4 linked regions of the Homo sapiens genome follow. The protein of the gene in region 3 purifies or fractionates together with the protein of the main gene of each other region. This does not show direct contact. Each region holds a gene or a part of one and is shown on either strand. Other genes may lie near its edges.

Region 1 (4,022 bases), on a different chromosome or scaffold from region 3:
AAACAAAAATACAGATGCAACATATCCTAAGTCGAATCTGTGATAATATAGCCAAGATTAAAAGACTACTTGTTCTAGCTTTCCTGGATACAAATGAATGCCACTCTTGTGTAGAATAGGTGCAACTGTAGGAACAAGAAGGTAATCCATGAGAGAAGGAGCAGCAGACTACAGAATCTGCCCACATAAATCAGTATTGGCAACAAAACTTCTGAAATTGTCAGGGATTGACTGTGCCCTGGTGAATGTCAACATTTGCCTACTGCATTTGTCTCAAAAAAGATGCACTTATTTACTGTCTAATTGATAGGATCTCTTATACAATCTTAAATCCTATATGTCATTAAACTATAGTGTGATTCTTCTCTTGTTCTTAATTTTTAAAATTCTTTTGAATATGCACTTGAATTTAAACAATAAAACATTATAAATGTATTTGTAATGCTAAGCCTATTTTAAGAAACCTAAAGTAAGCCAATACTGTACTTAGGACTGTATTTAAATAAAGAGTCAGATTGGAGGCTTTAAAGGACTTAAGTAAAAGTTACAAAACAACTTCTCAAACACATTTCTAAGTGGAAACCTGAAAGATACTAGTTTTATCAGATCTCACCCAAAAGGTCTTGAACATGTACATTCAAAATTTCAAGCTTTTACATTATAGACTATTTTAGTATTTAACAATTAAATGAACCAATAGCACATTAATACAATTTCTTGATCCATACTTTGAGTGAAGTATCTAATATCTAAGGCTTATCTGAAAACTGGGAGATTGATTTACAGCTAGATTGTAAATCTGGGGTCCAAGGACTTCAAGCAGTGTATTTGCCTCTGTGCATCTTTAAACAGAAGTTATTCCATATATGTCATCATATTTCAGAAGGGTCTATGACACTTCCAATAAAGGGTACGAGTTCTGTAATAAAGAGTGTTCAATAAGGTTCCAGTCGATTCATCAAAACAAGGCATTAATATCATGGTAGCCAATATCTTGTCTGTCTTTAGAGGAGGCAAACTGGCATATGAATCACTTTCCACAACAAAACAAAACAAACTACCCTAACTCTAATATTTGAACAAAATATTAAGAAAATCTAAATTGAGAAAGCAAAAATATGCTCGAAAGCAAACACCAACAAAAGTTTAAAGGCTACATTCCTGATTTTACAACTAGCAAAGTGGAATAAGAAACAAGTACATTTTGCTGTAGTCAGATTTACGTGCAACATGATTCATCTCCTCTGTATTTTATCAAACATTTTTGTACCAGTTGCCAAAGCATGTAATTAAACAGATTTATGCAGTCTGAATGCTTTTAAAAGTTCTATTCCCTGAGAATTCCAGTGCCATCTGACAATTCCATGTTCAAGAAGTAAACTATAAGTACAAAGTTAGCTAGTTTTAATAGCTCCCCAAACAGAAACAAAATTAAAGCCCATTTAGTGTAGTTAGGTAAATTAAACTCGTCTAAAACACATTTGAAAGGAAAATGATTCCGTGCCAGTTGTACAGATGCCAAAACTAAAGCAAAACAAAATATCCTGTTCGAGATGTGAGAATTCTTTCAAATAAAAACAGAACAAATATGGCATGATTATCTGTTCTGGATTTCTGATCTCTGATGCTAACACGATGCGTGAGTAGCTCAAGTCCTAACTGTAAAGTCAACACGGTCACCAAATAATCAGCGGTCACAGCACTTCCATTTCTAATCGCTTAGAGGAGGAAGCTATCCGCCGGCTCACTTTCCGGTTTGTAGCTTACAACGGTCGCGGGACCCACAGGGACGCGGCCCGAGTGGCTCTGCTCCGGCGTCCCGTCCGCACGGATCTCCCCCGGGACGCGGGCGGACCAGGGAGCACTCACCGGCAGTCCTTGAGCCATATCGCGATCTTCTCGTTGGGCACGTTTCCTGGGGGTAGAGAGAGGGGACAGCACGTTACCACCCAGGAGCACTACGACGGCGGAGTCACCCTGGACCCTCCCAAGTAGGAAAATCTACCACGGCAAATGCAGCCTAAGCGACACGTCTCAGTGTCCCTTGGCAGGGAAATCGGATGGCACCCAGTTGTCTGTGTTGACGCTGGGGGCGCCTCGTTCAGCGCGCGCGTTTGAAGGTCGGAAGTGTCCCCTCTCCCCTCGGCCTACCGTGCCCGAGGCTCTCCCAGAACTCGTGGCAGGCGCCCAGGGCGCACGAGACTCTCCCCAGCCCACCAGCCTCCCCCCGGAGCCCGGCCGGGAGCACCGACCTCTTCCCCCCGCTGCCGGCAGCTGCGCGCCGGGGAGGTCCTCCTCCTCGTCCTCCTCCTCGTCCTGCGTCGTCGCTTCTGTGGACAGATCCTCCGTCTCCGACGCTTGCCAGGAGCTGCGGCACTTGGCCCAGGCCTTCCTCCTGCGACTCGCCACTTGCCACTCCAGTTCCTCCTCCGCCTCCGCCGACGACGACAGGGGCCGGTCCATGGCCGCACTGGGGGCTCCGCTACCCCAGCCGGACCCTGCGCGAGACAAGGCGGCGGCAGGGACCCCCGCCCTTGCTGTCAGCGCCCGGCCGGGCAGGGGGCCCCGGGGAGCTGAAGCGGGCGCCGGAGGAGGAGGAGGAGGAGGAGGGGACAGGGAGGGAGGGAGGGAAGGAAGGGGAGGGAAGGGGCGGAGGGCCGGCGCTTCACATGAAGGCGGCCGGGCGCGCGCGGGAGCGCTAGTGGCCCGAGGGAGCGCGGCTGGGAGCCGAGCGCCCGCCCGGCCCCTGCTCCCCACCCCCTGCCTGACGCGCCCGGAGCAGGCCGGCCGCTGCGCGTCTGCGCGCCTTCCCTCGGCGGCGGCCCACGCCCCCTTCCGGCCGGGGCCGCGCGGGGCGCGGTAGGGCGGGGCGCGCCCGGCGCGACGCGGAGCAGGCCAGCCCCCGACTACTGCCCGCGGAATGGGCAAGATTAGTTTGTTAATAATCTTTCCTCCTCTCCTCCTCCTCCTCCCTCACCTAAAAATAGAACGTAAGTGGGGAGGCCAAGTCTCACAAAACATCCCCCGCGAGAAAACAAGTGTCTGCTTGGGCACCCTGAAACATACACTTGAAAGAGTCGCCTGAATATAGACTCTTTAGTGTCCAAGGAATTGGGGTAAGGACGGAAAGAGGTGCTTGATTGGTGTTGCCAAAATGTAAAAACTGCAAAAGACTAAGCTTCCTGGAGTGCTACTTTCATACTTAAAGTTATTTATCGTGTTTATGTTATGAATGAAAATGAATTGTGAAAGGATATTTAATCTGGAAATTTCACATTGAAGTTGGACTTTGGTGAGGGAGAATAGAGGAAACAATTGGGACAATGTGGAGATAGTTGCTTGGATTTTGGTGAGACAGCATGATACAAGAAACAAATGATGTCAGGGTTCAAAACTTTTTAAAGCCAGCTTTGGCATTCCGTTTTGTTATGTTTAAATTCTCATTAGCAAAAATACTCAAATTCTATCCAAAACCAGACACAATGTGACAGACCTATCAAGCAGCATTGTTCCCCTAAATGTTACATCTGAACTATACATATAAGTAAGGCTTCCAATATTTTATTGTACTTGGCTATGCTCTGAAGAACAAGTTAGAACACTTTTTAAAATCTTAACGTGATTGAAAAGAATATTTTGCGTAGACAAAATATTTTAAGGAAGGAATTATTTTTCATTTGAAATTAAAATCCAGAGCATAGTAAAATTCCTAATGGAAGCATTCGAATTACAAGGTAATTAAGTGCATTGTCATTGATAGCTACAGGAAACCATAACTTTTGGAGAATTTGGAATGAAGAATGCTCTGGAGATGAAATAGTGCCTAGTTTTTGTCCAGGCATTTACACATAAGTCATAGACTACTAAAATAGCACACTGATTTTCCTGCCTTCATTCTTTCCTATCTCCTTTCTAGCGCATTGCTCTAGATTTACAATTCCAAGACATCTTCTAATGGTTTACTAATATCCCCAAGATCAAATCCAAAATCCAGACTAGCTTTCCAGAACCATCATAATATT
Region 2 (3,943 bases), on a different chromosome or scaffold from region 3:
CTCCACACATGCTCCCTGGGCAGGGGGAGCCGGGCCTTCCTGGTGTAGCACCTGGGGCCCCATCGGCCCCACCTGGTCCTCCCACTCTCATGGACAAACTCCAGAGAAAGGAGGCCAAGGCTCTTCACCCTGGGGACCCACAGGCGTGCGGGGCTGCAGGAAGAGCATCCTGGTTGCAATCTAGGGCTGAGGTGGCCTCTGCTGAGCAGGCTTGTTTCAAAAGCTCCGGCTTCTTGGCGGCCCGAAGCTTCCACGCAATCCTCTTAGGCTGCCGAGCTAAGTCCCTCTGGCAAAGGGGGTGACCCCCATCCTTGCACCCCCCACAGGTAGGGAGGCGTCTGTTGGTATTGGTCAGTGACCAACTCTGGGAGCCTACTGCTCTGACTGGTGGAAGGGTGGGTGGGGGCATGGCTGTGGTCCCAGGCACAGCTGAGCCTAGCACAGAGAAGCTGGACCAGGGTTAGGGGGGCCCTGCAGCAGGAACGTGCATCTGTGCAGAGCAGACTAAGTGCTGGGCCGGAAGCAATCCTTCAGGGGCCCTAGACAGGCAGCTCTGTGACCGCCAAGTGTAGAATGTGGCTGTAAGAGGCTCAGAACATCACCTCCCAGGCTGGGAGCTGCAGTGTGTGTGTGTGTGTGGGTGTGTGTGTGTACAGTTGGGGGAGGGGGGAGAAAGAAAAGTGGGAAGATGCCCCTCCAACTCTAGGACCCCAATTTCCTGACAGCCTGAGAAAGACCACAGAGCAAGGATTGAGGTCTGTGCAGGGGAGCAGTGTCTCGGACTCTGCTCAGCTCCAGGCTGGCTGGACCTTCCAGGCTCCCCAGGCACACCTGAGAGCCTACAGCCTCTGGACCCAAGAGTGCCAGCCAACACGCCTACAACCGCCCAGCCTCCTACCACCAGCCTGTCTGCAAATTCAGTCCTAAGGCAAATTTGGAAGAGAAACAAAAGGCAGACAAGAAGCCCTGCTCCTGGCCCTTCCCAGCCCAGACTTTGGGGAGAAAGGCCCCGCAGGGCATCCCTGCAGGACGAATGGGCACCAACAGGAACAGGAGGAAAATAACCCCAACTTTAACTGCTGGAAACCCAGCAGCACCCCAGGTTCCCCTACAAACGGCTTCCCAGAAGAGCTGCCCCGGCACCCCTCCCATGCTCTGTGTCCTCACGCAGCTCAGCTCTGACATGGGGCTGGGGGACCCCAGAGAAGGGGTGTGGCAGCACAGGTTCCCTGGACCAGCTCAACTACCCCCAACCTGGCTGGTAGCTTCCTGGGGAAGGTGGTCCCCCATCGGGTGGCTTTTGTTCCTCTCTCCAGGCAAGCCTGTGCCTGGAAGAATTCGGCTGGCAGGCCCCACTGGGAGGACAGGCGGTACTGCCTCCTCCCCGCCCCCAGCCCCAGGTCAACAGGGCCTTTGTTCTACCTGCACACACCGGCAGGCAGGCGGGCAGAGCCAGCCCCCTTCCCTGGCAGCTCCCCCACCCTCTGAAGGCAGGCACTCCAGGCACAGGGGCGGCACCTCACTACTCTCACTTCCACTTTTGGGACCACAGCACCGAAGCGGCACGGGGAAGCCAACACTCCAGGTAGGCCACGCACACACCCAGAAGCCCGCGTCCCCAAGTCCGGCGGGCCAGACCTCACGGCGCACAGCAGGTAAGGTGGCCCGAGGGCAGCGGGCGGGGACCCTGGAGAAAACCCGGGCGCTGCGCAGTCAAGCCGGCAGTAGGGCAGCACAAGGCAAGGAAGAGAGTGAGAGCGAGGTCAGAAAGCGCGGTGACAGCCGGCTCACCCAGAGGAGCTGGGAGCCTCGGGCGCTCGGCAGGTCGGGAGGGGTGCCGGCGAGTGGGGGCCCCCAAGAGGGCAGAAGGGGGTAGGGAAGGCAGGGCCGACCCAGTACAGCACGGCGGGCATACGGCCCGGCCTCGGGGGCGCAGCTGCGCGAGGATCCCGCCGCCCGGGCGCTCACCTGGGCGTGCGCAGCGCGGCGGAGTCGCGGCGGTCCAGCACGCCGGGCACGCAGTTGGTGAGCTCGGTCCAGTCGGCGTGCAGCCCGCAGCTCCAGCCGGTGGAGAAGCGGGAGAAGAGCCAAGTCTCGCGGCGGTTGGGCCGGTAGCAGGTGCACTTCTTCTGGCCGGGCCGGCAGTCGCACGGCACCTCGAGGCGTACGTTCTGCACGAGGTGGCGGCCGAAGGTGGTGCCGCCCGTCTTCTGGATGTGCAGGAAGACGATCACGTCGTCGCCCTTCATGTCGAAGCGCAGCGAGCGCTCCAGCTCGCGGACCGGGAAGTAGTACTTCTTCTCGTAGTGGGGGTCGGGTGTGGGGAACAGGTCCAGGTCGTCGGGCGGCGCGCGGCCGCCGGGCGCGCCCAGGCTCAGTCCTGGGCCCGCGTACTGGTACAAGATGAGCATGAAGCACACCGAGCCCGCCACCACCAGCACGAACTTGCTGGCGCGCTCAACCATGGTCCTGCCGCCGGCGCGCCGCCGCCGCATGTGTCACCATCGCCGGGGCCCGGGCGCGGGGCGCGGGGCCTGGGAGGGCAGGAGGCGCGGGCGCAGCTGCCTCCGCCGCCGCCCGCGCTCCGGCCCGGCCCGGCTACTCGGCGCCCAGGCCGCCCGCAGCGGCGCGGGCCCCGACCCTCCGCGGTGCCATGGCTGCTCCCCGCCCGGCCCCGGCTCCCCGGGCCCGACGCCCGACTCCGCTCCCGCTCGGCCCCGCTCCCGGCCCCGGCCAGCACAGCGCTCTCCGCGCCCCCAGCACCAGCCCGCTCCGCTCCACTCCGCGCCGAGAACGCTCTGCGCCGCCCCGCGCGCCGCCGCGTCTCCGCAGTCCGCCGCCGCCGCCCCGCCCCGGTCCGCCCCTGGCCCGCCCCCGTGGCGTCTCTTGCCGTCGCCGCCCGCGCCGATCCTCGGCCCCGCCTCCGGAGTGCCGGGGTTCGCCGCGGGTGCTGGGCGCGGGACCTGGGTCTGCTGCGGTGGCGAGGCCGCTAGCAGGCGGGCAGCCAGCGACTGGGAAGTGATTCCGCCCTCAGGGGAGTGGGGGACCAACCGGCAGTGCGGAGCCGAGGCGTGGGAGGCTCTCCTGGCGGGGGCCGCGGTGAGGGGGCGCGGCGGCTGGCGCTTCTGGAGCCTGGGTCCGTACCCCCTCCTCCCCAAGTCCCAGCCGCCCACGTCCCCGCAGCCCGCGCGGGAGGAAAGGCCTTGACCTTGCACGCTGGGGCGCTGAAGTTAGACGCTAGCCTACTGGGCTGCACTTCCAGGGACCAGGGCGGCGGGGGCCGCCCACCACCAGGACCGAGAGGGAAAGCGAGGCTTTCCTTTCCTGCTCGACCCCCTCACCCCTGCGGCTGGCTTTGGGACAGTGCCCCGCAGCCCCGCATTGAAGAGATGTTGGGCTGTCTGCAGAGGCCTGCGGAGCGGCTTTATGGCTTCCTCCTTGTTTGAAAAGAATATCAGACGAGGTGCATTTTCCCCCATCCATGTTTATTATACTCCAATGAAAGAGTTATAAAACATTGAGCCAATTCTTAAGAATCGTGAGTGCCCACCAAATATTCTGTCTTTCGTGGGTTGGTTGGAGAGTCCAGCGGCCCGGGCCCAACCTGGCTGCGGAGGGCTCGCTCCACGTTGGCTCGTGTGTGGGCCGGGTGGTGCGGGCTCCTCACTCGCCGCCGCCCAGCCTGGCAAGCACGCGCGGCATTCGTGGGGCGGGGGGTCCCGCCAGGTGCCCACTCACACTGCTTGGGCTCTGGCAGTACTCGGAGGCTGCAGCCCGTCGGAAGCGCAGGAGTGGGGCTGGGACCTGCCAGGATCTCACAGCTGCAGGGCCGGCCGCGGTGGGCCCTAGTGTGTTGGTTCAGGCCAGCGAGGGCTCTGGGAGCGAGTCTGGCTGCCAGGCGTGGGCTCCCAGTGTCCACGTCAAGCCCTGCCGGGGACGGGGT
Region 3 (3,500 bases):
CAAGATGGGATGTTCTTCAGTAATGAAAGTGATATTATAAAATGAAAATAAACAAGTTTATTAAAAAGAAACAAAAGTTTATTTTAAATATATGAATTATATGACAGCCTGGGCCTGTCTTGCCTTCAGATCCATTCCTCCCGCTTCCCCTATATTGAGGGCTGGAGGGCCCTCTAGGCTGCATTTCCCAGGCTCCCAGGTCAGCTGGTTACTGGCTGGGTTCAGTCAAGGAAACGCAACAGCTGGAGCCTGGAGAATAGGAAAAGGGATAGGCCAGGACATTTCTCCCCGCCTTCTCTGTCTTTGGCAGGATCTGTGGGGTGGCCATCTCTCCACCATGGCTCCAGTTCCTGCCAGAAGGGTCCACTGTGGTTCTAGTTTCCACTCTAGTTTCCTTCTTCTAGGCACTGCCTCCCCACGGTCTAACTGCTTCCATGGTTCCCAGCCAGGGGATGGCAGTGGCTTCCTGTGTATCTTCCGCTCAGTTTCTCTGACTCTCCCATCATATGTATAACCAGTCTCCTGAATTCACTTCCCACTGGACAAAAATGGAAGTTGGAGATAATTCATTCCCAAGACATGCAATTTACCCAAGCTCACAGAGCAGTGAAAAAGCCAGCAGAATGGTTTCTGTTTTCCTGGTTGGATTCCAACAACAAATGCCTTAAATCAAAAGTCTCAAGGGCACACATTCCAAATCCTGGGCAATGATCCCTAATCTATCTTCTTCTTACGTGGACAATTCTATGTAACAAGTTGCTGGGTTAGTAGCAATAAGTTCCCTGTCTCTAAAACAAGTATTCACTTAACAATAGCTCAACAACCATTCCCCCAGAGAAATGCCAGGGCAGAGTGGTAGGGTTGGGGCCAGAAAGCTCTTCAGCAATAGATTTGTATTTCTTCATTTTTTCCTCTACTGAATAAACCAAAGTACTATTTTGCAAACTGAAATAATTTTCATTTCACAGATGAAAGCTAAAATGAAAAAATCAACATTTCCCCAAATTCCCAAAAAGTGTAAAAGCAGGCTTCTAAAACGGATCATCAACTCCAGGATACTCACTTTTGCTAAATTCTCAATACTTTGTAAAGATATCATGTCCAGGTGAACGTTAAAATAATCTTACCTTGGGGACCTCATAAGATGTGGTTCTAGTCAAACACACTTATTCCAGGATATATTTCAGAGTGACTCCAAATTCCCATCTGTTGCTAGAACCAATCATTTCTGCCGTTCCAAAAAATTATCGTAGCTCAGAAGACCTATGTTAAAAAGGCCAAAAAAAAAAAAGGAATCAATTAGCATTTTAATGTTAAAATGAAACTAATTTCCAGTAGCAAAATAATGGTTTTTAACCATGACACCTGCAGTTTCAGGCAAGTGGCAGACAGCCAAACATATCCATAGTTGTAAGGTGTCCTACTATTAGGGAGGAAAAGATATAGAATTCTACAGTCATTAATTAGCCACATATTAGTTAACACCACATAGTTGTAAAGAACTTTCTGCAGCAGGAAGGGTATTCAAAATTTAACAGAGGGTCCCAAATCATTTGAAATGCACAAATTTCACTCTCCCATTTCATTGACCATCAGGAAAAATGGAAGTTAGAGATAATGCATTCCCAAGACATGCAATTTGCCCAAGCCCATGGAGCAGTGGAAAAGCCAGCACGAAGATCTGAATTCCTGGATTTGTGTGACATAAGCCTGAAGATGATGCTAGACAATCTATGAGGTTGCTTTTTGAAAAAATATTAATAGGACACCAAGAGAAAAAGTGTTTCCAATATAATCCACCATACCAAAATATAAAGAACACTTGTGAATACTGTAGTTGACATTCCCTCAACGCATAAACCTAAAAGGATTTTTCTACTTAGTGAACACATTTGTAAAAGGACTCAGATGACCCTAAAGCAAACACATCTTAAGAAAAAAACAGAACATGAAACTATACCATTTGTAAAGATGCTAAGTTAAATACATCCCTCCCAGTGGTAAAGATCAGAGAAAAATTATGATATGTGTTAATAAATATTCAAGTTGCAAATATAACATAAAAATGATTTTTGAAATGAAGTCTAATTACTTTAGAATCCTGTAGAACCAATTAAGAATCCACCACCAAGCACAACTGAGATTTTTCTCTTAGATAACCCAAAGATAATTCCACAAGTTTGATTAGAGAACACTTTCGGTGATAAATTTGAAGACTCACCACTTTGGGGCTGCATGTAAGAGAGTATGGGCCTTGAGTAATTAGTTCAACAAGAGAGAAATGGCTTTAAATAGCTGTATAAACACAAGTTGCTCAGAAAAAACAACTTGAAAATGTTCATCTCCCAGATCCTCCAACTTTATTAAGTGTGTTTGTCCTTACGTCCACCCAACGGCATGATGTGACCTTCTGCTATCAGAAAGAACTACACAATATAATTCATCAGAACTCATCATAATGAACTCCCCACATATTGGAAACCAAAATGACCTTTCCTGGCTAATATTTTTCTTATTTTCTTCACACAAAAGGAACCACTGGGTATTCTTTTTTCAATTCATTAAAAAAATAGATCCATCAGTGGAAAGTAATGCGACCTAATAGTTCATATGCAAGACAAGAAGCCAGGAGTTTAATTTTAGGCTGAGCAGTAACTCATTCAGTCATATTTTCCCAGAGTGTACCTGAGGCACTTACTTGAAAGAATTAACTCTTTCTTGTCATGTCTTAGTCTGTTTTCTGCTGCTGTAACAGAACAGAAATTGAGTAATTTACCAAGAAATTTATTTCTCACAGTTCTAGGGGCTAGGAAGTCCAATAGCACAAAGGCAATTAAATTTCAACATGAGTTTTGGAGGAGACATTCAAGCCATAACATTCCACCTCTGGCCTCCCAAAACTCATGTTCTTCTTACATACAAAATATATTCATTCCATCTCAATAGCCCAAAAGCATCAATTCAAAAGCCCAGTGTCCAGAGTTCCATCTAAATCAGATATGAGACTCAAGATTCATCCCACCTCAAATGTCCTCCAGCTGTGAGCCTATAAAATCAAAACAAGTTATCTACTTCCAAAACACAGTGATGGAACAGGCATAAAACAGACATTCCCATTCCAAAAGGGAGAAATAGAAAAAGAAAAGAAGTAACTGGTTCTCAGTATGTCCAAAACCCAACAGGTAAAACAACATCAAGTCTTAAAGCTGGAGAATAATGTCCTTTGGCTCTGTATGTCCTGCATCCTGGACATGCTACAGCAGGAATTAGGTTGCCAATGCCACGGGCAGCCCTGCCCCTGTGGCTTTGCTGGACCCGATCCACTCAGCAGCTCTCTTGGGTTGGAGTCCTATGCCTGCAGCTCTCCCAGGCTGGAGTTGTACACCTGCAGCTCTACATTTCGGGAGTCTCTGGGGTAGCCTCGCTCCCATGACTGCCCCCTAGTACATGCTCTCTGTGGTGGCTCCTCCCTTGTAACAACTTTCTGCCAGGACCCCAGA
Region 4 (3,500 bases), on a different chromosome or scaffold from region 3:
AGCTACTCAGGAGGCTGAGGCAGGAGAATTGCTTGAACCCGGGAGGTGGAGGTTACAGTGAGCTGAGATTACGCCACTGCACTCCAGCCTGGGCGACAGAGCAAGACTCTGTCTCAAAAAAAAAAAAAAAAAAAAGAGTAACAGCTAATAAACATAGAAGTACTAACAGACAAATCACCATTTAGCATCCACCGTGATTTAGGTACAAATTACCAACAGATGCTAAAACTACTGTGAAACAACAGGATAGTCACAATGTCTGAAATTTATCATTCTACGGATTAGCTATTGAGGTGGCAACCACCACCTCAACCAAATGATCGAACTTCACATCACCAATACTACTAACTACAAATAGTTATGGGCCTCCTGATATCATGTCCTGACAGAGACACACCACTACCTGTGTAGGATTTTTGCTAAAAAGGTTTAATCTGAAACTAGCCACAACAAAACAAACAAATCTCACCCTAGAACACTAGTCTTGATTATTTTTAAAATGCCAGTGTCACAAAATATAGAAAGAAAAGAACAAACAAAAAAAGAGACAAAGGTGGAATACCTTTTTGAAATAAAAGAGAGCTAGCAATGCAGTACATGATCCTTGACTGGATCCCAGACTGAAAACAACAATCAGGTCAGGTGTGGTGGTTCACACCTGTAATCCCAGCATTTTGGGAGATTGAGGCAGGAGGATCACTTGAGGCCAGGAGTTCAAGACCAGCCTGCGCAACACAGCGAGACCCTATCTCTATTCTTTAAAATAAAAAATTAAATAATAATAAAAAAAGAAAACATCAGCTACAAAGGACATTATCATATCTGGGGAAATTTGAAAATGGACTTATGTCAGATTTCTCTTATTATCTCAATGTTAAATTTCCTGAATGTGAAAATGGTATTCCGATTATGTAGGAATATTTTCTTTTTCTTAAGAAATATATCCTGAAGTATTTATTTAGGAGTGAAGTACCATAATGTCTACAAATTACTTTCAAGGTATTATGATTCAGGGGAAAAAATGGACATATATAAAGGAATACAGACTGGGTGTGGTGGCTCATGCTGGTAATCCCAGCACTGTGGTCCCAGCTACTCAGGAAGCTGAGGTGGAAGAATTGCTTGAGCCTGGGAGTTAGAGGTTGCAGTGAGCCATGATCACACCGCTGCACTCTAGCCTGGGCAACAGAGCTATACCCTGTCTCAAAAAATAAAAAGGAATTCAAAGTGTTCTGTGGCTGGATAGTGATGATGGCTGCATAACATGAATGTACTTAATAGCACTGAATTGTACACCTTAAAATGGTTACGATGATAAATTGTATGTTATGTGTATTTTATCACAATTTTAGAAATTAAATAAAATTTTTTGAAATACCACACTAATATGCTGGGTTCATTTTTAAAAAAAAAACTTTATCTTTTTTTCTGTTTGAAGGAATACTCATTCATTCATTCATTCATTCATTTACTTTGAGATGGAGTCTCGCTCTGTCACCCAGGCTAGAGTGCAGTGGTGTGATCTTGGCTCACTGCAACCTCTGCCTCCCTGGTTCAAGCAGTTCTCCTGCCTCAGCCTCCTGAGTAGCTGGGACTACAGGCACCTGCCACCATGCCTGGCTAATTTTTGTATTTTTAGTAGAGATGGGGTTTCACCATGTTGGCCAGGCTGTTCTCAAACTCCTGACCTCAAGTGATCACCCACCTTAGCCTCCCAAAGTGCTGAGATTACAGGCGTGAGCCACTGTGCCCAGCCTGAAGGAATATATATTTCTTATAGAAAAATAGGATACAGAAAAATATTCCCTTTAAAAAAAATAACCTATGTTCTCACCAAACTAGGTTGATATCTTTACTTCCAGTCCCTTTTCAATTAATATATATTCATTTATAAAATGGGATCATAGGCTTGACTTGTTGTAGACAAACTTTTCTCACTTAACATGCCATGAAAATCTTTAAAACAATAAAAACATCTTAGTATCTTTTTTATTGTCTGAAATTCTATACAACATACAAGATAAACTAATAGTTACTCACTTATAATTTATTATTCTGTGATAGACTCTCTTAGAGCTTTGTGTCCAATTCAGATTAATTTTGGAAAATAGATCTCTAACAGGAGAATTACTGGGTCAAAGGAATATTTTTAAGGTAATGAACTAAAGTGGATATTGTGCATGGTCGACTCCCCAACATTCTTTCAACCCCGACTCCACTAGGCACAGTAATACGGTGTATAAAACTGGCCCAGATCCAAGGATGGCTCCTGATTAGTCTAAACCAAAGGCTGGTGAACTTTTTCTCTAAAAGGTCAGATAAATATTTTTGCTTTGCGGGCCATATGGTCTGTCACAACTACTCAACTCTGCCACTACAGTGTGAAAGCAGCCATAAACAGCAAGTAAATAAATGGGTCTGATTTCCAATAAAATTTTATGTATAACAATAGGTAGTAGGTCAGATTTGGCCTTGGGACTAAGCCAATCATGGCAAACCCATCCCTTTGTATTAGGGAGTGGTCAGGAACCCAAGTTTAAGCCAATCAGGGCAAACATGTATTTGGCCACAGGAGTAGCCATGTGTGTGGCCTGTAATAGGCCCAAACAAATTGAAGGAAATAATTATTGCTTTTTTAATTGTTATTTTTTGAGACAGTGGCTCTGTTTGCAGGCTGGAGTGTAGTGGCACGATCTCAGCTCACTGTAATCTCTACCTCCCAAGCTCAAGCCATCCTCTTACCTCAGCCTCCCAAGTAGCTGGGACTACAGGCACATGCCACCACACCCAGCTAATTTTTGTATTTTTTGTAGAGATGGGGTTTCTTTCACCATGTTGCCCAGGCTGGTCTCAAACTCCTGAGCGCAAGTGATCCTCCTGCTTCAGCCTCCCAAAGTGCTAGGATTACAAGTGTGAGCCACCGTGCCCGGCCAAGAATTCTTATTAGATTGTTTAGGAGGAGGTATTATTTCTGCCAGCAGTTATGACTGAGGAAGCAAATAACCCAATTACTGTCGGCAGTTCCCTATACTACCAGGGAAACTAGGCCCTGGAACAAGCTAGCACTGTGCACTGTAGAGCAAAGAGATGGAAAAAACCTAGGCACTTAATTACACTATGGAGCCACTGAGTCAAATCCTGAAATCCAAAGTGAGCCAATATGTCCTTTCTATTTAAGTCAGCTTAAAATTGAGTTGTATGTTACCTACAGAAAAGCTGCATGAATTTATATTTTTACGGCAGAGAACAAGAAAATGTGCTTCAGCTTACCACAATGATAGGCAAAAAGTATCTTAATACTTTATCATTAGTTTCAATTTTATGAAATAATGTAAAAAAAAGTGAATAAAAGTTAAATACTCCATCTTTCCTTTCATCCCTTAGGATCGTACCTTTTTTTCAAGAAGAATTAGCTTAAATAGGATTAAGACCTGCAAAAGGAAAAAAAAATGTTGTATTGAAATGAGAGACTCACGCCTATAATTCATCTTTTCCCCTCC

What was found.
Region 1: the proteins of TAFA4 (region 3) and ITPRID2 purify together in Homo sapiens (affinity purification with mass spectrometry; 2 studies listed by BioGRID and IntAct, with this or other methods). This does not show direct contact.
Region 2: the proteins of TAFA4 (region 3) and HS6ST1 purify together in Homo sapiens (affinity purification with mass spectrometry; 2 studies listed by BioGRID and IntAct, with this or other methods). This does not show direct contact.
Region 4: the proteins of TAFA4 (region 3) and AVL9 purify together in Homo sapiens (affinity purification with mass spectrometry; 2 studies listed by BioGRID and IntAct, with this or other methods). This does not show direct contact.

What each region holds. Positions count from the first base shown.
Region 1 is NC_000002.12:181,890,508-181,894,529, reverse strand, and holds the start of ITPRID2 (protein ITPRID2), read right to left. Parts: upstream 2,801-4,022; 5' UTR 2,464-2,800; coding exon 2,253-2,463; intron 1,916-2,252; coding exon 1,870-1,915; coding exon of another isoform or gene 1,866-1,869; exon of another isoform or gene 1-1,865.
Region 2 is NC_000002.12:128,316,069-128,320,011, forward strand, and holds the start of HS6ST1 (heparan-sulfate 6-O-sulfotransferase 1), read right to left. Parts: upstream 2,801-3,943; 5' UTR 2,496-2,800; coding exon 1,969-2,495; intron 1-1,968. UniProt on the Homo sapiens protein: 6-O-sulfation enzyme which catalyzes the transfer of sulfate from 3'-phosphoadenosine 5'-phosphosulfate (PAPS) to position 6 of the N-sulfoglucosamine residue (GlcNS) of heparan sulfate.
Region 3 is NC_000003.12:68,884,048-68,887,547, forward strand, and holds part of TAFA4 (chemokine-like protein TAFA-4 precursor), read right to left. Parts: intron 1,264-3,500; 5' UTR 1,142-1,263; coding exon 1,128-1,141; intron 1-1,127. UniProt on the Homo sapiens protein: Modulates injury-induced and chemical pain hypersensitivity. Ligand of FPR1, can chemoattract macrophages, promote phagocytosis and increase ROS release.
Region 4 is NC_000007.14:32,554,489-32,557,988, reverse strand, and holds part of AVL9 (late secretory pathway protein AVL9 homolog), read right to left. Parts: intron 3,432-3,500; coding exon 3,393-3,431; intron 1-3,392. UniProt on the Homo sapiens protein: Functions in cell migration.